Linked DNA regions of Homo sapiens. The protein of the gene in region 1 binds, or shares a complex with, the protein of each later gene. Each region holds a gene or a part of one and is shown in the gene's direction. Other genes may lie near its edges. The genes, in order: FAM181B and TEAD4.

Region 1 (10,980 bases):
AGCACTATCTATAATATAAAAGGTCTGTAAAACCTCCAAGTAAGTTAATCAAAACAGGACTAGTTGAATAAACTATAGTAGATCCATTCAATGGAATACTACACACTGTAAAAAAAAAAAAAGGAAGGAAGATATATCGTTAAGTGAAAAGAACAAGTTAGAGGAAAGTTTGTATAATGAAAATATGACTGAGTTAATGAATTATAGGCCTGAACCCAAACAAAACAAAACAACAATGATTAACTCTAGGAGGTGAGGAGAAAATTGTGGAGGTAACTATGATAGAGGTTAGCCCTTCCTGAATATATCTTGTGACACAGTTTTGACTTTGAAACCATGTAAACTGTAGAAAAATTATAAAACAAAATTAAAGATTTATAAAGCTATTTTCATACAAAGCAAAGTAAAACAAGTGAATCTGATTGTGCATTGAGGGGGTGGCATAACAAGAGATAGTTTTGTTTTTTATTTTTTGATGGAGTCTTGCTCTGCTGCCCAGGCTGGAGTGCAGTGGCACGATCTCGGCTCACTGCAGCCTCTGCCTCCCGAGTTCAAGCGATTCTCCTGCCTCAGCCTCCCAAGTAGCTGGGACTATAGGCGTGCGCCGCCACTCCCAGCTAATTTTTTGTATTTTTAGTAGAGACAGGGTTTCACTATGTTGGCCAGGCAGGTCTCGAACTCCTGACCTCATGATCTACCCCCCTCGGCCTCCCAAAGTGCTGGGATTACAGGCGTGAGCCACCATGCCTGGCCAACCAGAGACAGGTTTTTAAAGTGAATTTGAAACATAGTAACTGGACTGTTCATCCCTATTGGGATAGGTTTTGAAGACAAAAAATGTGAATGACAAAGAAAAAGGAATTAAACTGTTTGTAGTAGTTGTGTTGTTTGTAAGAATATTGGCATTGTTATTCCAAAACTATTGCACATATTGTAGCACATATATAAAACAGCATAAAAAAGAATATGAATCTGATCAAGCCTCTACAACTATTTCTCATTTACAGGAAACACATGGACCATAGAAACATGTTAGGTGGCATCGTAGAGACAGATGCAACCAACCAAGTACAGAATGTGGGAAAGTTGACAAGATAAAGATGCAGTTTCTTCAACAAACAAATCACAAAGAAAACAAAACAGTAAGTGTATGTGGTTATATATTAAAAGAGATTTAAGAGACATACCAAACAAATTCTTTGTCTTTTCTTCCATTAAGGGGTAAATTCTAATTTCCCTTCCTTTGAATCTGAGCTGGCCTTAATGACTTGCCTGACCGATAGGAAGTTGTGAAAGTGACATTCTGGGAATTCTTGGGCTAGGTCATAAGAAGCCTGGCAGGTGCCACATGGGCCTCTTGCAGCGCTGCCTCCAGTATTCCTGAAGCTCCACATAAGAAGTCTGAGTACTCTTAGACCAACATACTGGAGAGGCCAGTATGTGTAGGTGCAGGTGCAGTCATGTGAATGATGCCATGTTGAATCCTCCAGGCCAGCCATTGTCAACGTCACATGAACCAGGAGGATCACCTAGCCAGCTCTTCCTCAAATTTCTTACCCATATTATTGTGAGATGTAATAAAATGGTTGTTGATTTAAGCCACTAAGTTTTGGAGTAATTTGTTATATAACTATAGATAACCAGAATAACATCTAATATTTTAAGACATAAATTAAAATCTAGTGTTAGTAGAATCTGGTTTGCAGGGGAAAACGATAAGAAAGAAAACAAGAGACATTTGTGAGGGTGCACAATTTGTAAGGTAACACTCTATTGTGATGATGATAATGATACTTTATAAGTCATGTGGTAAAATTCAGGAATTAATTTGCTTTATTCGAGATTTAAAAAATAATGAATGACAGGAAATTGGTTTGGGAAGGGAGAGAAAAACAGATGCATAATTATTTCTTTCATTATGAATGTACATTCCTGACATCTCTGAGGGCTAAGATTGTCCTGCAGGGAATATGATTAAAGTTACAAAAGACGAAAACAAAATAAATAAGTCAGCTTTTGATCCTGCTGCTATATTTACCCACAAGAAAGGAGGCAGCTCTCAGGTGGGCTTTTGTCTAAGTAATGTCCTGAAATCCAAGTGTAAAAGAACAATATGAAATCTCAATTCTCCCAAACGGTTTGGGGCGAGTTCAGCCCTTGAGCCCCTGGGGGACTTGGTTCCCAAGGAGACTAATCCCACTTGCACAGCATTAAGCGTCACTGGGGTGAAAGAGCTCTAGTTTGGAGTTCTGCAGAGAGCCCCTACTGCAGGCTGGAGCCGGGTCCCTCTGCTCCATAGGAAGTGAAATGTATTGATGTCAAAGCCACTCAAATGAATGTGCTCACTCAGGGAGTAGGAGGAGGGACTGATGGGCTTGGCTAGAGCTGGCTACTAACTTTACTGAAACCAATTTCATTCCAGATAGAGCTCTTCCTCAAAGGAAAGGAGATCAAGGGAAAAAGCAGCCAAGGCCTTGAGGCTGGGTCTATATGTACAATTTAGTTGGACAGTGGAAGCTCTAAGGATTTATTTTGGTCTCAGGTATAGAATTACTTCAAGCAGAAGCTGTTCTTTGTTGCCCTATTGCCTACATTTTCCCATAAACACCACTGCTTTCATTTAGCCATGCCTCTGCCCAGGCTGTTCTCTCTGCCACAGATATTGTGTGTTTGCTTTACACAGTCAGATATATCATTTAAGTCTTAGCTCAAATGCTGCATGTCTATGCAGCCTTCTCCAACTCCTGTGGGCAGACTTGAGGGTCCTTTTACTTCCATTGGACATGTATCACATTATATTACAATGGCTTGTTTGCATATTTGTCTTTCCACCCAAAGGGTAGAAATCATGGCTTCTTATCTCTGTATCCCCAGTACTAGCATAGCGCTGAGCACATTGTGGGTGTCAATATCTTTCTGTTGGAAAAAATCAGTGACTGGATGGATATTTATTTGTAAGGATCAATTTTGTGAATCAGGCTATAGAACTTCTAAGCCATGAATTTCAGCTCCATGGTTTACAAAAACTTCAATTTCCATTATCTTATTGATTTTCACAATAGCCCTATCAAATAGGATTATGTTATTATTCCCCATTTATGGATGGGAACATCGAGGTCCTGAAGGTTAAGTGACTTTTCCATAGGCAGTCAGATAATAAAGGCAGGACTGGACTCCAGTGTCAGTCTCCGGCTCCAGTTTTAGCACTCTCTCTCCTGTATTTCATTGTCTTTTTGTAAGTTTCTACAACCCCCAAGTATAGCTACTCTCTTGCATTTGAAAATAGTCACTCACTTTGCTGAGGGAAAGGACAAATGATGCTGGTTTCATAGGGTAATGTGTTGGTAAGGAATGGGTGGGGCCTAAGGAATCAAGAACATGGACATTTGTTGAACTGCTATTTTGTGTGAGGTGCTTTTATATATACCATCTCACAACAACCTTGAGGAGTTGAGATTATCTCCACTGTGCAGGTGAGAAAAGTAAGATTCAGAGGCATTACTTGCCTGTTATGTCATGTAATTCTCACCCTGAGAACAATTATGACCATTCCCTTTTTTCAGATAAGGAGTTTGAGCCTTTGGAATATGAACTGACTTGTCCAAGCAGTTCAATAGCAATAGGCAGGGCCAGAATTTGAACCTGGCCTCATCTAACTTCAAATCAACTTTGATGTGCAGAACTCCAATAGAAATGAAGAAAGACTTTTACATATGAAGCTTTTCATATTCCATTTATTTTGAATATGATTTTAGGATTTAGATAACCCTGGGGATTAAGAGTTTTTTCGGAATAAGATGTCGATTAAATGTAGAGTACTGTGCAATTGGTGTCCAAGGACTTGTAAGAGTGCTCAGTTGACAGAAGGTGAAAAAAAAAAAAAGTTAGTGCTTTTGGCTGCCAGACCTGGAAGCCTATGGAATGGCCCTGTTGGAAAGGGGATGGGCAGTGCTGACATCCACATCTGGAGTGGAAGAAGCACAAATCAGTGACAGGTCTGCACAATTTTCTGAATGTGAATACCACCAAGAGTAAAACAGACAGTTCGGCCATGGAGGACAAAATGCTGTGTGTAACTCAAATGAAAAGTCCATGATAATTGAGCCAATTTGAATTTAAAATAAAAAGTTTGGCTCAGCTATGTGGGTTTGGGAAGTGGCTACTTCATCTTCTAAATGAAAAATGTTCATCTGGCCTTTTTTCTTTCTTTCTTTTTTATTATACTTTAAGTTCTAGGGTACATGTGCACAATGTGCAGGTTTGTTACGTATGTATACATGTGCCATGTTGGTGTGCTGCACCCATTAACTTGTCATTTACATTAGGTATATCTCCTGACGCTATCCCTCCCCCATCCCCCCACCCCACGACAGGCCCCGGTGTGTGATGTTCCCCACCCTGTGTCCAAGTGTTCTCATTGTTCATTTCCCACCTGTGCAGTGTTTGGTTTTCTGTCCTTGCGATAGTTTGCTCAGAATGATGGTTTCCAGCTTCATCCATGTCCCTACAAAAGACATGAAGTCATCCTTTTTTATGGCTGCATAGTATTCTATGGTGTATATGTGCCACATTTTCTTAATCCAGTGTATCACTGATAGACATTTGGGTTGGTCCCAAGTCTTTGCTATGTGAATAATAGTCTTTGCTATGTGCCACAATAAACATACGTGTGCACGTGTCTTTATAGCAGCAAGATTTATAATACTTTGGGTATATACCCAGTAATGGGATGGCTGGTTCAAATGGTATTTCTAGTTCTAGATCCTTGAGGAATCGCCACACTGTCTTCCACAATGGTTGAACTAGTTTACAGTCCCACCAACAGTATAAAAGTGTTCCTATTTCTCCACATGCTCTCCAGCACCTGTTGTTTCCTGACTTTTTAATGATCGTCATTCTAACTGGTGTGAGATGGTATCTCATTGCGGTTTTGATTTGTATTTCTCTGATGGCCCATCTGGCCTTTTTTCTTTGGTAAGGCTGTGCCTTCATGGTGTTCAAAAATGGTTTCGCTACATCTACAAAGTGAGGCTTAATAAAAAGAGTTTTGAAAGAGATGGTCTATGTCTCTCCTATGCAAGCTCTGTATCGAAACTAGAGTAACTTATTTAGAGAACACTTTATCACACACACAGTGTTTTCATATAGAGACAGTCCCCAACTTATGATGGTTCAACTTTATGATTTTCCAACTTGAATCAGTGTATTACATGCATTTTAACCTACAATATTTTCAACTTACAATGTGTTTATCAGGATGTTGTTGCTCTATCACAAATTGAGAAGCATCTATGATCTCACTTAATGCTCATGAACACCCTATGATCCAGAAGACACGTAAGGGATATAGTCACCTTTTTGTGTTTCAGAGAAGTAAGGGTGAATACTCATCCAGGCTATGGAACAATGTATCATTTAAATATCACAAGTGCCCTGTGGGGAGGGCAACTTTACCTGCATTTAACATGAGTAAGCTAAACAGAGAGAGTACGCTGGTTTGTCTAAAGCCATGCACTCAGCAGAGCAAGGATTTCAACCTAAGTCATGAGGTTATTGAGTGGTGGCTAAGACCAGAACCCAAGCCTCTTCTGAATCTCTTGTGAAAATGACCTTATTGCTCATTTTCTCTATCTATCCCAAAGAGGATTGCCCAGGTGAAATTAGTTTTAAGTGAACTTCATGATGATCCCTGAAATGCAATGAAAATTCCAGGGATAACCTAAATGGTATGACAGGTAGGGGAGAGGTTCCAATCCATCTTTTATTCTAACATGCTGAGAGTTTTATACACACACAGTGTTCTCAAGTAACAGGGGGCTTAGCCAGATCGACTCCTTTCTCCATTGCCTCCTGCTATGTGTTAATAAAAGATGGGCCACTGCTGGCCTCAATTTACTGTTAGCCAATTGTTACTCGTAACAATCAAGTGGCAAACAGTCAAGAAGAAAGAGCACTGGGCTTGAGAATCCTGGGAAAACTCAGGTTAGAATCTTAGGATCAGGTCTAGAGCTTTAAGAAATACTCATTTTCCTTCCCCATCTTAATAGATGAGAAAGGCAAGGGCAAGAGAGGACGCAAGTATTGTCAAGGGCTTAGGAATGGCTTTGGAGTCAGAATGGGCTAGATCTGACTTTGGCCAACTCACTGAACCTCCCTGAGGTGCAGTGTCCACGTTTGTTGAATGGCGATAACATGTAATTCACAGGGCTGTTGTTCAAGGATTAAATGAGATAATAGATGGACAGCGCCTGGCAGAAGCAAGCGCCCAGAAGCTGGTGGGTGTTGTTATACAGCTGGACTGAAACCCACGTCTCTAGACTCCTGCCTTCTTGCCTCAGGAGAGGCACCACCGCAAGTACCTGCAGAAGCCTATCAAGCGCTGCAGCGGCCTCATGGGCCTGAACTGGAGTTTGAGACCAGCCATCTCTTCCTCACCCCTTGCGGTTAGAGGAGTCAAGAGAAACACCACGGGGCAAAGGGAAACGAAGGAGTTAAGGCGTTGAGCTTCAGAAAGCTCAGAAAACTAAAGCGACCCCCCACTCCTCCAAGCCAGGCTAAGTAAGCCCCTCCCCTCTACCACCGGGACGGTCGCCGCGCGCTCCCTCCCTCCGCCCCTTGCTTACAAGACCTAATGAGCTCCCCCGGGAGGCAGCGCAGCGAGCCAGGCCCGGAACTAGTAGGCTGCGCCGCGCGCGCCGCGCCGGGGCGGGAGCTGGGTCTGGGCGGCGGGCAGGAGCTGGCGGGGGCGCACGGGCAGCGCTGCGGACAGCCCGGGAGCCGCGGCGATGGCGGTGCAGGCGGCGCTCCTCAGCACGCACCCTTTCGTGCCCTTCGGCTTCGGGGGCTCCCCGGACGGGCTAGGGGGCGCCTTCGGAGCCCTGGACAAGGGCTGCTGTTTCGAGGACGATGAGACCGGGGCTCCGGCGGGTGCGCTGCTGTCGGGAGCCGAAGGAGGGGACGTGCGCGAGGCCACCCGCGATCTACTCAGCTTCATTGACTCGGCGTCCAGCAACATCAAGCTGGCGCTGGACAAGCCGGGCAAGTCGAAGCGGAAGGTGAACCACCGCAAGTACCTGCAGAAGCAGATCAAGCGCTGCAGCGGCCTCATGGGCGCCGCGCCCCCCGGCCCGCCCTCCCCGAGCGCCGCCGACACGCCAGCCAAACGGCCGCTGGCCGCCCCTAGCGCCCCGACAGTCGCGGCCCCGGCCCACGGCAAGGCTGCCCCCCGGCGGGAGGCGTCGCAGGCCGCCGCGGCCGCCAGCTTGCAAAGCCGAAGTCTGGCCGCGCTCTTCGACTCGCTGCGCCACGTCCCCGGGGGTGCCGAGCCGGCGGGGGGTGAGGTGGCTGCGCCGGCGGCCGGGCTAGGAGGTGCGGGCACTGGGGGCGCGGGAGGGGACGTGGCAGGCCCCGCGGGGGCCACGGCGATCCCAGGGGCCAGGAAGGTCCCGCTGCGGGCACGCAATCTGCCTCCGTCCTTCTTCACGGAGCCGTCCCGGGCAGGCGGCGGCGGGTGTGGCCCGTCGGGGCCGGACGTGAGCTTGGGCGACCTGGAGAAGGGCGCGGAGGCCGTGGAGTTCTTTGAGCTGCTGGGGCCCGACTACGGCGCCGGCACGGAGGCGGCAGTCTTGCTTGCCGCCGAGCCTCTCGACGTGTTCCCCGCCGGAGCCTCCGTACTGCGGGGACCCCCGGAGCTGGAGCCCGGCCTCTTTGAGCCGCCGCCGGCAGTGGTGGGAAACCTACTGTACCCCGAGCCCTGGAGCGTCCCGGGCTGCTCCCCGACCAAAAAGAGCCCCCTGACTGCCCCCCGCGGCGGCTTGACCTTGAACGAGCCCTTGAGCCCCCTGTACCCCGCCGCTGCGGATTCTCCCGGCGGGGAGGACGGGCGGGGCCATTTGGCCTCTTTCGCCCCCTTCTTTCCAGACTGCGCCCTGCCCCCGCCGCCGCCGCCCCATCAGGTGTCCTACGATTACAGCGCGGGCTACAGCCGCACCGCCTATTCCAGCCTTTGGAGATCCGACGGGGTTTGGGAAGGGGCGCCGGGGGAGGAGGGGGCGCACCGGGACTGACTTCGAGGCACGCTTCCCTTCATTAGAGACGGCTGTGGAGAGCGCCGCGCCTCCGTGGGTTTCTCCTAAATCTGAAGAACGATGGGAAAATGCACGTGGAGATGAAACCAGATTTTTAAAAATTCAATTAATAAAAGCAACTTCAGAAAAAAGAGATGAAGACGAGTTGGGGATTGTTTAATCACAACCTCAAGTGTTAAAACAAAAACAAACAAACACGTTTGTAGGTTCTTACTGGACCAGAGGAGTCAAGAAACCAAGATGGTTTGGGGTATGGGGTGGGGACGGCAAAAGGGGTAAGAGCTGGCTTCTGTAGCCACCTGTCCCTTCTATTTTTCAGCGAAGGTCAGTGTATTTAGTGTAATTACCCCTTCTAAACAGTGTCCTAGTCCCTCCCTTCCCTCTCCTTGAGTGCATTTTGAATTAAAGCCTATATTGAAAAGAATGGAGGTGAGACTTACTGATTTGGGTGTTTTCTTACAGGACGGTTTTCCGTCTGGTCGCTTAGCTTTGTTAGGTGAGCCTGTGGCTGAGGGAGGAGGCCGGTGGTCCACTGCTGACCTCCTGTGCTTGTCCTTGGGTAGGGTTCTCTTCTGTCACGGTTTAACTCTTTTTTCTGCCCGCTTCCTGCTTCCATCTCCCTCCACCCTTATCACAGTCCCAGTGCTTACTTTCCTTCTTTCTTTGCCTGGCCTCTCATTATTCTATTTCTTTCGGCCGGCTTTTCTTGCACATCTCTTTTGTAGGAGACTTAAATTTGGCAAACCTGGGTTCCATTTCTCTCCTGTCTTTTCCCCATTTTCCAGCCACTTTGGGAGGGAGAGGGTGGGCAAACTGTAACCTCTTTGTATCAATTTTCGTGATCTGAGAGGGTGAAGACGGTAATGTTCTTCTACTCACTTCACAACTGGTTGGGTAGCTCAGAGGGAAATAAGTAAAATGTCTTGAGGCTGTGGCAGTGCTTGATTGGTTCTGCTGTGTATATATAAATGGTTTCTACACACGGAAACAGAGTTGTGAGTCCCATGCCTTTTTTGGCGGGGGGCTATCTACTTGCCTGGTGATTGCCCTTTCCCTTACAAGCTGTACATCCTCTTTACCATCCCTCCTTCTCTCCTTCCACAGCTCCCCTTCCACCTCTGTTGGTTTCTGCCTCCCTTTGTTTCCTCAGTCCTTATACCCACACTCTCCCCACGGAAGGGCATAAAGAAAGGTGTGAAGTTTCCAAAGGAATTTCTGTTCCCTGAATAGCAGGTCTGATGAATGGAATCTGAAGGGGCTCTGCAGGGAGGAGTATGATCTGTTGTCCGAGGGAGATTTGGGGAAAAAGAAATATTTTTACCAGCCATGAATGTGGCAGAGAGGACACATGGCACCAATAGGTTGGTTAAGGGGCAGGGGAGGAAAGACTGGTGGGAAGTGAGCAGCTGGAGGGAAAAGAGGAGCCCTTGGTGCTGTAGAACTGCGGGGAGAAAGGCATGAAGAGAGCAACGCCCAGAACATCTGAGTGAGAGGCTGCCTTCTGATGATGCTGCAAAGGAGAGCTGCTTGGCTTCAAGGCACCCAGGATTGATTGCAGGAATATCTGGATGTGAGTTAGTTGAAAACCGAGTGTTACCGCAAGAGGTGTAAAAATCCAGGTTCATGTTTGCACACATCAAAAGTATTGTGATATTTTCATAAAAGAATTTCTGGAAAAAATGAGTATTAACCAATGGTAGATGCAACTTTAAATGCTATCAGTAAGTCATTTTCTTCTGAATAAAGCCTTTCTTAAGAAAGCACCACAGGAAATAGAACGAGTACTGTTAATGATGAAAAGAACTTTTGCAACTCCAGAAAGCTAATGTCTATTGGATTTCTTCCAAAGTGGTTAAAGGTGATTAATTCCATTGTGCTAACAGAATATTACTTAATAACGATTTAATTTGTCTAAACTGTTGTGAATACAATCCAGGATACACTTGCACAGTAGGAAAACATTAATAACCCTGTGACTGTTACTAAGACTATAGTGTCATTGTAATGTTTCTTAATTCTCCTCTCCTTTCTTACCTAGTGTAGTAAAACAGGTTATCTCTCTCCTACTGTTTTGCTTGCTATACGTTTAATTAATAATAATATCAACATTGTTTCCGCATCCCAGGCATTTAAGCTAACTCACTGAGCCTCTTAATATTGCCATGATGTAGGTGCTTGATACTGTTTGGATCTGTGTCCCTAGCCAAATGTCATCTCTAATTGTAATCCCCACATGTCGAGGGAGGTCCTAGTGGAAGGTGATTGGATCATGGGGGTGGTTTCCTCCATGCTGTTCTTGTGATAGTGAGGGAGTTCTCATGAGATCTGATGGTTATAAAGTGTGGCACTTCCTTGCTATCTCTCTCTCCTGCCACCATGTAAGACGTGCCTTCCTGCTGCTTCACCTTCTGCCATGATTGTAAGTTTCATGAGGCCTCCCAGCCATGTGGAACTGTGAGTCAATTAAACCTCTTTCATTTATAAATTACCCAGTCTCAGGTAGTATCTTTATAGCAGTGTGAGAACAGACTAATACAGTACTGTCATTATCCCTATTTGAAAACTGAGGCTCAGGTAAGATAAATAGCTTGTCAACAGCAAGTGGTGGATCCAAGATCCAAATATACAAGTGTCCTAATACCAAGACCTGCCTGTTACTTGCCAGGCTCTCCTGTGCTTTGTACATGTGTGTGGTTTCCAGTTCCCTGTATTATGGTACTAGCAGGTTTTTTCAACTTCAGCACTATTGACATTTTGGGTGTCATAATTCTTTGCTGTGGGAGCTATCCTGTGCATTGTAGAGTGTTTAGCAGCACCCCTGGCCTCTACCCATTCGAAGCCAGTAGCACTGCCTTAGTTGTGACAATAGAAAAATATCCCCATTACCTCATGT
Region 2 (10,704 bases), on another chromosome or scaffold:
TTTTTTTGAGACGGAGCCTTGCTCTGTCGCCAGGGCTGTAGTGCAGTGGTGTGATCTCGGCTCACTGCAACCTCCGCCTCCCAGGTTCAAGCGATTCTCCTGCCTCAGCCTTCCAAGTACCTGGGAATACAGGTGCGTGCCACCACGCCCAGCTAATTTTTGTATTTTTAGTAGAGACGGGGTTTCACCATGTTGGCCAGGATGGTCTTGATCTCTTACCTCGTCATCCGCCTGCCTCAGCCTCCCAAAGTGCTAGGATTACAGGCGTGTGCCACCACGCCCAGCCTTTTTTTTTTTTTTTTGAGATGGAGTCTCACTCTGTTGCCCAGGCCGGACTGCAGTGGTGCCATCTCGGCTCACTGCAAGCTCCGCCTCCCGGGTTCACACCATTCTCCTGTCTCAGCCTCCCGAGTAGCTGGGACCACAGGCGCCTGCCACCACGCCCGGCTAATTTTTTGTATTTTTAGTAGAGACGGGGTTTCACCGTGTTAGCCAGGATAGTCTCGATCTCCTGACCTCGTGATCCGCCCGCCTTGGCCTCCCAAAGTACTGGGATTACAGGCGTGAGCCACCGCGCCTGGCCTTTTTTTTTTTTTTTTTTTTTTAATGGAAGACTTCACGAATTTGTGAGCTCGGGGCCATGCTAATCTTCTCTGTATCAGTATCCAATTTTAGTATATGTGCTGCCCAGGCAAGCACCACAATGTGATATTTTCATATGTGTAAAGGGTTTTGTTTTTTAAAGATGTGGAGAAATTAGGGAAGGGTTAGATATATAGTTCTAGTCACATTTGTCCCTGATTATAAACTACAAGTTTGTTACAGAAAATAAAGAATAGGAGGCCGGGCGCTGTGGCTCACGCCTGTAATCCCAGCACTTTGGGAGGCCGAGGCGGGTGGATCACGAGGTCAGGAGATTGAGACCATCCTGGCTAACAAGATGAAACCCCGTCTCTACTAAAAAATACAAAAAATCAGCCCGGCGTTGTGGCGGGCGCCTGTAGTCCCAGCTACTCAGGAGGCTGAGGCAGGAGAATGGCGTGAACCCAGTAGGCAGAGCTTGCAGTGAGCCGAGATGGCGTCACTGCACTCCAGCCGGGGCAGCAGAGCGAGACTCCGTCTCAAAAAAAAAAGAAAAGAAAAGAAAGAATAGGGCTGGGTGCAGTGGTGCATGCCTGTAATCCCAGCTACTGGGGAGGCTGAGGCAGGAGAATTGCTTGAACCTGGGAGGCGCACGTTGCAGTGAGCCAAGATTGTGCCATTGCACTCCAGCCTGGGCGACGAAAGCAAAATTCTGTCTTAAAAAAAAAAAAAAAAAGAATAAAAACAAGAAACTAGATCCCCTTAATTTGCAAACTTTCAGAAATAATCCCTTTAAAATACTTTTTCAACTTTTTTCAAAAACAGGGTCATCTGATATATAGTTTTTATTTATTTATTTATTTTATTTTATTTTTTGGAGACGGAGTTTCGCTCTTGCTGCCCAGGCTAGAGTGCAATGGCGCAATCTCTGCTCACCGCAACCTCTGCCTCCAGCGTTCAAGCAATTCTCCTGTCTCAGCCTCCTGAGTAGCTGGGATTACAGGCATGCGCCACCACGCCCGGCTAATTTTCTATTTTTAGTAGAGACGGGGTTTCTCCACGTTGGTCAGGCTGGTCTCGAACTCTCAACCTCAGGTGATCCGCCCGCCTCAGCCTCCCAAAGTGCTGGGATTACAGGTGTCAGCCACCACGCCCAGCTATTTATTTATTTTTTGAAATGGAGTTTCACTCTTGCTGCCCAGGCTGGAGTGCAACGGTGCGATTTAGGCTCACTGCCACCTCCACCTCCTGTGTTCAAGTGATTCTCCTGCCTCAGCCTCCCAAGTTGCTGGGACTAAAGGCGCGTGCCATCGCGCCTGGCTAATTTTTTGTATTTTTAGTAGAGATGGGGTTTCACCATGTTGGCAAGGCTGGTCTCGAACTCCTGACCTCAGGTGATCCGCCTGTCTCAGCCTCCCAAAGTGCTGGAATTACAGGTGTGAGCCACCATGCCCAGCCCCTATATATAATTTTTAGAATCTGCTTTTCCACTTATATCATGAATGTGTCTGGTTTATTTTATATTATTTTATTTATTTTTTCTGAGACAACGTCTTGCTCTGTCGCCCAGGCTGGAATGCAGTGGCGAGGTCACGACTCACTGCAGCCTTGACCTCCCGAGCTCAAACAAGCCTCCCACTTCAGCCTCCCAAGTAGCTGGGACCAGAGGTGTGTGCTACTATGCCCAGCTAATTTTTATTTATTTATTTATTTGGTAGAGGTAAGGTCTCATTATATTGCTCAGGCTGGTCTCAAACTCCTGGGCTGAAGAGATCCTCCAACCTCGGCCTCCCAAAGTACTGGGATTACTGATGTGAGCCACTGTGCCCAATTAATTGATTTTTAACTTTGACTTTGGAATATAGCCAACACAAATACCCCTACATGAAACCACCCAGCCCTGCCCACACCCTTACTCTCCTCCTCCTGCACAGTCCATCATCAAGCTTGAGTGAGGATCCATTTGTAGGATCCAGACAGCTGAAATATTTCCACCAAAAGACTCATTCCTGAGGGTCAGTGAATTAGGGTCCTGTCCCTTAAGAAATGTAAACATCCCTGGGAAGGGCTGATGTGTGGGTAAAATCACCTTGCCTTTAACTCTTCAGAATTTGTACATCTGTTAACTTTCCTTTACCTAGACATTCCTCAACAGCTCCAAGCCTGAGGTCCCCAAAGCTCCAGAGCTCTCCAGGAGACTATAAGGGTATGGGCCAGAAAGTCAAGATCCTGAAGACACACCTTCCCAGCTTGGATCACTGATGGTCTTGGATAGTTAAGACTTAGAGGGAATAAAGATCTCCAAGTTCGTTGTCAGCAGTCTACCCTAACCGTGACACTAGGGTTGCTTTCCTGTTTCTACTCTGGACTCTGTCCTGCTTTCCTCTCCGTCCCCTGAACCTGGCTGGATTCCCCTCCGACCTCACCCCACTCCCCTTTTGCTTGAATTTCTTTCTTTCTTTTTTTTTTTTTTGAGACGGAGTTTCATTCTTTTTGCCCAGGCTGCAGTGCAATGTCGTGATCTCAGCTCACTGCAACCTCCACCTCCTGGGTTCAAGTGATTCTCCTGCCTCAGCCTCCCGAGTAGCTGGGATTACAGGCATGCACCACCACGCCCAGCTAATATTGTATTTTTAGTAGAGATGGGGTTTCTCCATGTTGGTCAGGCTGGTCTGGAACTCCTGACCTCGTGATCCACCCACCTCAGCCTCCCAAAGTGCTGGGATTACAGGTATGAGCCACTGTGCCCAGCCCTGAATTCTTATCTCACTTACTGACACCAACCATTGTTCAGCTGTTAAAGGTTAGCGATTTTTGTTTTCTCTCTCACTACACAGCCAAATGATCTGAACCGTTTCCTAGCTCCTTCCCCTCCTCCTCAACCTCAGGACCACTGCTTGAGTTTTAGGGCACCCCGAGTCTCCAGTTCAACTGCAAGACTGTTGCAAGACGGTCTTCTTGATGGTGCTGCTGATTAAGTCACACTTGTGTCTTTTTTGATGCCTAACTCTTCAGCATGGCACGCAATGACCTTCAAAGTCTGGTATCCACTTCCTTCAATCTTATTATCCACATCTCTATTCTCCAGCCACACCAGTTTACATAGCTTCGCTAAACACACCAGCAGACTGGCTGCCTCACCTTTGTAGGTGCTATTCCATGTGTCTTAAATGGGGTTTCCAGTCTCAGTTTGGCAAACCCTCATTTATCCTCAAGAGCTAGATCAAATGCACTGTAATTGGATTTCACTGTTCCTTCCCTTGGGTTCCCATTGAACTTTGCATAATTGTCTGTCTTCTCACCTAGACTGGAACTACTTGAGGAAAGGGACCTACTCCTTCCCTTAGTGCGGTGTCAAAGTCAACAAACACTCCAATGATTGCTGAATTAATATAATTATTATTAATTACTTTGAGACAGGGTTTCGCTCTGTCATCCAGGCTGGTGTGTAGTGGTGCATTCACGGCTCACTGCAGCCTCAACTTTCTGGGGTCAAACTATCCTCCCACCTCAGCCTCCTGAGTAGCTGGGACTACAGGTGCAGGCCACCATGATGCCCAGGCTGATCTCGAACTCCTGGGCTCAAGCGATCCACCTGCCTCGGCCTCCCAAATTGCTAAGATGACAGGCGTGAGCCACCGGGCCCCCCATGATTGCTGAATTAAATAGTTGGTGCTTAGTGTGTACTTCACGTGGCGCTGATATGCTGCCTTGCGTTTTGGTCTTTTCATGTGCATGAGGTGTGACCAAGCCTTGATATGATTCATTATTTAACAAGAATACCACAATTCATCTATTCAAATGAGGGCTGCGTCTTCAACGCCTTCACCTTGCAGGACTGGATGCTTAGCTCAGTCATTGCTTGAAACACTTTTGGAATACCTCTCTTGGAAACAACTTTGGCATCGATAGCACTTTCCTTTCAATATCTTCCACGGTAGCAATTGTTTTTCATTTATGCAGCATTTATCATGCACTTCCCTATCCCAGGCACCAGGCTGGATCTGTGTGAAAGATAAGATAAATCAGACATTACTCTGTCTTCAAGGAAGTTTCTGTTTGGCAAGGGAGATAAGATCTAGACAACCACCCAACACAAGGCTAAGTGATAATGCCCCAGAAAAGGTTGGATTTGATTTTTGGAAAAAGCCAAAAGTCCTTTGGTTTCAGTCTCCTGGCCAGGTAGATGATGGCGCTACCTGCCAGCACACTGCTTTAAGCCCGTTTGTCCTAAGCGTCTCCAAACAAGGAGCCCAGCGTGTTTCCAGCACCTCCTGCCCCAATAAGAGACTCCTGGGCATGTGTGTCTGAAGTCCAGACTCTCACCGATGGCAGTATACACCGAGGCCTCCCCAGCTAAACTCTGAGCTCTTTGAGGGCAGGTGCTGACGGCTGATCCTGATCTTCACAGTATCTGGACTCATCACACATCTTAGATGAATATTCATTGAGTCACTGAGCCCAGAAGGCGTCCCATGGCATGCCACATGGACTTCAAACCGAGTGCCCTTTCTCCCATGTGGTTTACTCGTAGTGGCGGTTTTACAGATGCCCAAGGGGCAGGAGAGAAAAACGGAAAGAGCTAAAGCCGGGGAGGGCAAGCGAGGGGGCACTGGCAGCGGATCTGGGAATGGAGCCCGCGAGTTCCTGCTTCCTGGTTCCCCGGAGCAAGTGTCCTTTGGTGGGAGCCGCAGGAAGGGAGCAGCCCTTCCTGCGCGCCGGGAGCCCGCCCCTTCCCCGGCCTCCCAGGGACTCGTGCGGAGGGACGCCGGGTGGCGGGGCGGGAGTCTGGGCCCCGTCCACCCCCCCGCCCCCGGGACAGCCCCACCCCGGCGAAGAGGAAGGCTCTCGGCTCCTGGGAAAGGGAGTCGGGACCCCGCCAGGAGGGGAGGGCGCGGGGCGCGCAACGAGCAGCCAAACAGTCGGAGCGGAGAGATCGAAGGGCTAGTGGGCGTGGGGGCCGCAGCCGAGGCCCGGGTGGAGGGGTCCCCGCCGTCCCTCGGCCCCCTCCCCCGCCGCCCGCCCCGGCCCGGCCCGGCCCCGCCCCGCCCCGGCGGCCCGGCCCCTCGCCCGCCCGCGCGCGGCGCAGTCTCCTCCCCGAGGTGCCGGTGGCCCCGCCGCCACTCCCTCCGGCTCCCTCCCTCCCGCCGCGGCGCGCATCTCATTCCAGCCCTCATTCCGCGCATTCCAGCGTCCTCCTCGCACACTCGAGGCCAGGGGGCGGGAGGGCCGCAGCTCCGGCGCCGCCGCGTCCCGCCAGGTGAGAGGCGCCCGCGCCCGCCGCACCCGCCGGCGCCCTCACGGGCCGCGCGCCCCACGCCGCCGCAGCCGACCGCTCGCGCCGCGTGCTCGGCTGCTCTTTTCTTTCCGCCGCCCGCGTTCCCGCCTTGGACCTCTGCGCTCCGACGCGCTCCGTCCCGACCTCTGGCTTCCCTCCGCGCTCCGGCGCTGCTCGCTGCCCCTCTCCCGCTTCCCTCCTGTCCGCCCCGCGCTCCCCTCCTCGCTCCCGGTTGACTCACTCCTCCAGGAATAGGGATCCCCGTGTTTTCCCGTCAGTCCCATTCTGGGAAAACTCCTCCCTCCGCGCGCTCCGCTCCGCTCCGCTGGGCGCACCGGGGCCGGTCGGCGCGGGGTGGGCTTGGCCCCGCGGCCCCGCCTTCACTGCGCCGCCCGTCGGCCCCGGCCGGAGCCCGGCTCTGCGCGCTGACGCCCTGTCGTCCCCGCAGAACGATCGCCGCGGCCGGAAGAGTTGGCGCTCGGGGCGGACTCCTTGGAACTGGCTTAGCGCACCCATCCCACCTTCCCGCACCCTGGGACCGGTAAGGCTGGGGCGCGGGGACTTGGTAGGACTTTGCCGGAGGGCAGGAGTCTGCGCGGTGCGTGCGGAGCTCCCTCCCGGGACGAGACTGGGAAGAGCGAGGCACGTGGAGGCGGCGCGACTGAGGCTGCTGGAGGCGAAGCGGCTCCAGGGGCGGGTAAGGGGGGTGGACACTCGGGACTTTGGGGGAAAGGGAGGCCGGTGTGGAAAGGACCGGAGAGGCAGAACCGAGAGCATCGGCAACAGAAGAGACCCAGCACCCATGCCTCTTTTCTGCTGGGCCCTTTTCGAGCCTGGAAGGGAGAGACCTGGAGGTAAGCGGACTGCCTGTTTTAAGTGCAAAGGCGATGCGAAAGTCGGGGGACCCCTGCAAAAGGTCCTACACCTCAGGGCTTGGGAAGCTGCTGTGTTTCCTGATGGGGACTAGTGGATCGATCCAGGGAGCAGAACTTTCAAACCCCAAAGTGAACATTTCCCCCGTTGTGCTGAGGCACTTGAGGCCCCGCGGACTGACTGCGTCTGTGCTGAGTCTGTGTGACACCTGACTGCGAGTCCCCCTCGCTTTGAGTCTCTGTGTGGGTGATGTCTGTTCACGTGTGGCTCACCTTGGCTTCCAGTGGGCGTATTTGTTTGTGTTGAACGTGAGTGACAGAGTGTGTGTATATGTCTGCGTGAGAAGGGGCTGTCTGAAAGTGAGTATCTCTGAGTAGGTGTGTGATGCCACGTCTCTTGAGTATGTGTTTCTCTTCGAGGATGTTGGTTCTGGCTAGGACTGTTCTTCCTCCCTACATAGCCGTGGGCAAGAGTCAGTGTCTCTGGTTGCCTGAGTGCAGGGATAATTTGACTGTGGTTTTGGAGTGTGTGGCCTCCAGGCTCCGTTTCCCCTGGACCGGGCAGAGCTGGAAGGAAGCTGGCTCCACCTGCCTCTTGGAGCCAGGAGGCTGACTTTCTCAGGGCGAGGGTCTTGTGCTTGCCTGGAATAGGTCAAAAAGCTGGTAGGAGGCTGAAGGAAGTTGAGATCTTTGCCTTTGGGGGATGGGATGGGCGGGTGAGATTTGGGAAGGTTTGTCGGGGTGGATCCCCGGGAAAAGGAGACAGTTTTGAATCTGGAGACTTGTGTAAATAGTGCTTTTAAGTTGCCCTCAAGGACAAACAGGGAGGTATACCAGCCTGAACTACTTTTCCTGGTTTAACTCTCCTCGGAGCTGACCAGGTAACCCAGTAGAAGAATCCCTCATTCTTTCCAACTTGCCAGACACTCAGCACTTCCTTTGAGAAGAGGAATGAGTAGCTTGTTGCATGAGGGCTTCAACGTGGATATCATGTGTAGGGCTTCTTGGAAGGAAGGAGCCAGAAACTGTCTCGGGGGTTGGGGGTTCTCGTCCTTGCTCCTCCATCCATCCTGAGGATGTGGATGTTCTTGTGGGAAACACCTCACCCTCTCACCTCTTCGGCCTGGTGTGCGACTGGTCTAAAAGCAGCACTGATGGAGTGGAAAGGGCACAGGTTTGGGGTCAGGCAGACCAGGGTACAAATCCTGAGTCTCTCACTACCTTTAAGGCTCTCAGGCTGTTTCCTGGTGGGTAATACGAGCGGAGCTTTTCTGTCCAGAAAGTTTCTTGTGAAAAGTCGATGTCTGCAGAGCCCCCACCCAGCAGCACAGTGCCTGGCACATCCCATGGACTCCATAGGATAGCTGTTGTATCCAGTGTTTCCTTCGCTTATTTCAGTAAGAACCCCTTTTTCCTAGGGATTAGTGTTTTTTGAATTAGTGTTTCTCTGAGCACCATTTGAGAAACCTTGCCCTGTCTATCATGTTTATTTAGCAAACATGAATCGAGCATTTACTGTGAGCCAGGCCCTACGCTGTGTTCCGCGTCCTTAGGAATCCAGGGTCCTAGTGGCCCAGGTCAGGAGGGAGGGGGACAGACAGGGCTTTGTCACCAGAGAACAGAGTGCCAGCTTCTATTTTCTGATTCCAGTTTTGCCTTGGCCCCAGGGTGAGCTTGCTGAACATTATTAGATACCCTAATGTCAGCATCTAAGTCCCCCATTTTATTTTATTTTACTTTATTTTTATTTTATTTTATTTTATTTATTTTTGAGACGGAGTCTCGCTCTGTCGCCTAGGCAGTAGTACAGTGGCATGATCTTGGCTCACTGCAACCTCCGCCTCCTGGGTTCAAGCGATTCTCCTGCCTCAGCCTCCCGGCCGGCTAGTTTCATATATATATATTTATATATATTTATTTATATATATAAATATAAATATATAAATATATATATAAATATAAATATATATATATATTTTTTGAGATGGAGTTTCGCTCTTGTTGCCTAGGCTGGAGTGCGATGGTGCGATCTCGGCTCACCACAACCTCTGCCTCCCGGGTTCAAGCGATTCTCCTGCCTCAGCCTCCCAAGTAGCTAGAATTATAGGCGTGCGCCACCGTGCCCCACTAATTTTGTATTTTTAGTGGAGACGGAGTTTCTCCATGTTGGTCAGGCTGGTCTCCAACTCCCAACCTCAGGTGATCTGCCCACCTTGGCCTCCTAAAGTGCTGAGATTATAGGCATGAGCCACCACTCCCAGCCGTTTTTTGTATTTTTAGTAGAGGCGGGATTTCGCCATGTTTGCCATGCTGGTCTTGAACTCCTGACCTCAGGTGATCCGCCTCGGCCTCCCAAAGTGCTGGGATTACAGGCGTGAGCCACTGCGCCTGGCCTAAGTCTCCCATTTTAAAGATGGGGAAACTGATGCTCCTAGAGGGACAGTAACTTGCTTAATGCCGCAACCCTGGTGAGTGGCAGAGCAGGGATTAGAACCTATGCTCTCCCCTTGGCGTTCTGTCTCCTGCCCTGTGGATTGCAGTGCTTGTACACCCCCTACTCCCCCTAGCCGCCTTCATCCAACAGGCGCGGAAGCTGGAGCAGACTGACTTGGGCCATGCCTTGTCGCTCAGATAAGGTTGGTAGGAGGCAGAAATACTCTGCTCCGACCTGGCAGAAAGCACATAGCTGTTCTGGGGAAGGAGCCATCTCACTGTAGAATCTGTGGAGTCGGGAAGGGGCCCTCGGGTCTTTAAAACACACCCTCCTCTCCCCTTGATGAGCCGGCAGGTGAAGGTTCTCCCTATCTTTTTAGATCTCCTGGGTTGCAAATGTCACAACCTCCTTTGATTTCCACTCTGGAGTCTTGCCCCGGTGACTGTCACAAAGCAATGCCTGTTGCCAAACCTGTGGCTCCTCCTTCTCCTTCCCAGTGGAAGTGGAGGACGTTGGTCCCCAGCTTTGGACCTTGCCTTTCCTGCAGTTGAGGTCAGTCCAGTGGCAGTTGGAAATTCAGGGCTTGTGAGGGTGGCTTTACCTTGCCTGTCTTCCTTTGCCCCCATGACCCTTTGTTGGCCGGGGTTGGACGACAGCTCCCTTTAAAGCTCTGAAATTGGAGCTGAACAGCTGCTGTCCAGTAAAGGGGGGTGAGGGGGCTGTCAGCAGCCAGGAGGGCCCAGGTGGAGGTGGGGGCAGGGCTTTGTCACTGGGGAGAACACGGTCTCCAGCTCCTATCTTCTAATTCCACTTTTGCCTGGACGCTTTCTGAGATGACGGTTCTTCCCTTGCTTTTGGTTTTTCCCGCTACTATCTGGGAGATTCTAATCACACCTGTGTGATCTGGCCCTGGGGCCCTTAGCTGGTGGGGACTGGATATTTGGGAAAATTTCCACTAGAACTCAGGTCTCCAAGATCTATGCCCACGTCCTCCTGCATTTAATACAGGGGGGCTCCTGGAAGGGCCAGAGGATGGGCCAGGCTCCCTGTAGCGGGGGCTGGCTCCTTGGCTTGGTGTGGGCAGGCGGGCCCCCATGGGTGGGGACTCTGCTTCCTTTGACCCAAACTTCATGGGAACAATAGACTTCAGAGGAGTCACCAGGGGCAGGAAATGGGAACTGTGCAGAGCCAGGGGTGACCCTCCTGGGGGATGGGATTGCATATCCGGTAGAGGGTTGGGGGCAGTGCAGAGGGCGCTGGGGAGGGGCTGATGACACATAGGGTGGGCCTCTGGGGTGGGGCCCTCCTCCAAAGGGGGCCGTTGACTCAGTGTGAAGCTAGAGCTCCGTGCCGGTTCTGTGCTGAGCTTTCGGCTCTTACTAGCACAGGGCTCGTGTTTGCCAGCCTCCGCTCGTGCCACGCTCGCCCCTGCCAGGACTTGGTCTTCCCCTTCCCCTCAAGCCCCTGAGATGTCTTTGCGAATCATCCTGGCTGGGATAAAAGGCTGGTGTTGTTGCTCCCTGGCTGGTCTCCACCTT

The links.
Region 2: the proteins of FAM181B (region 1) and TEAD4 are in contact, whole or in part, in a crystal structure (PDB 6SEO), measured with the Homo sapiens proteins. Residues at the interface, in NP_787081.2 of Homo sapiens: Pro221 (codon at 7,446), Leu222 (codon at 7,449), Arg223 (codon at 7,452), Arg225 (codon at 7,458), Asn226 (codon at 7,461), Leu227 (codon at 7,464), Pro228 (codon at 7,467), Ser230 (codon at 7,473), Phe231 (codon at 7,476), Phe232 (codon at 7,479), Thr233 (codon at 7,482), Glu234 (codon at 7,485), Pro235 (codon at 7,488); in NP_003204.2 of Homo sapiens: Glu263, Ala264, Val265, Asp266, Gln269, Ile270, Asp272, Lys273, Leu295, Lys297, Trp299, Glu391, Val414, Glu416, Val417, Ser418, Ala419, Ser420, Gly423, Gln425, His426, His427, Tyr429.

What each region holds. Positions count from the first base shown.
Region 1 is NC_000011.10:82,729,535-82,740,514, reverse strand, and holds FAM181B (protein FAM181B), read left to right. Parts: upstream 1-6,650; 5' UTR 6,651-6,785; coding exon 6,786-8,066; 3' UTR 8,067-10,575; downstream 10,576-10,980.
Region 2 is NC_000012.12:2,953,640-2,964,343, forward strand, and holds the start of TEAD4 (transcriptional enhancer factor TEF-3), read left to right. Parts: upstream 1-5,757; 5' UTR 5,758-5,842; intron 5,843-6,101; exon of another isoform or gene 6,102-6,308; 5' UTR 6,309-6,401; exon of another isoform or gene 6,402-6,409; intron 6,410-10,704. UniProt on the Homo sapiens protein: Transcription factor which plays a key role in the Hippo signaling pathway, a pathway involved in organ size control and tumor suppression by restricting proliferation and promoting apoptosis.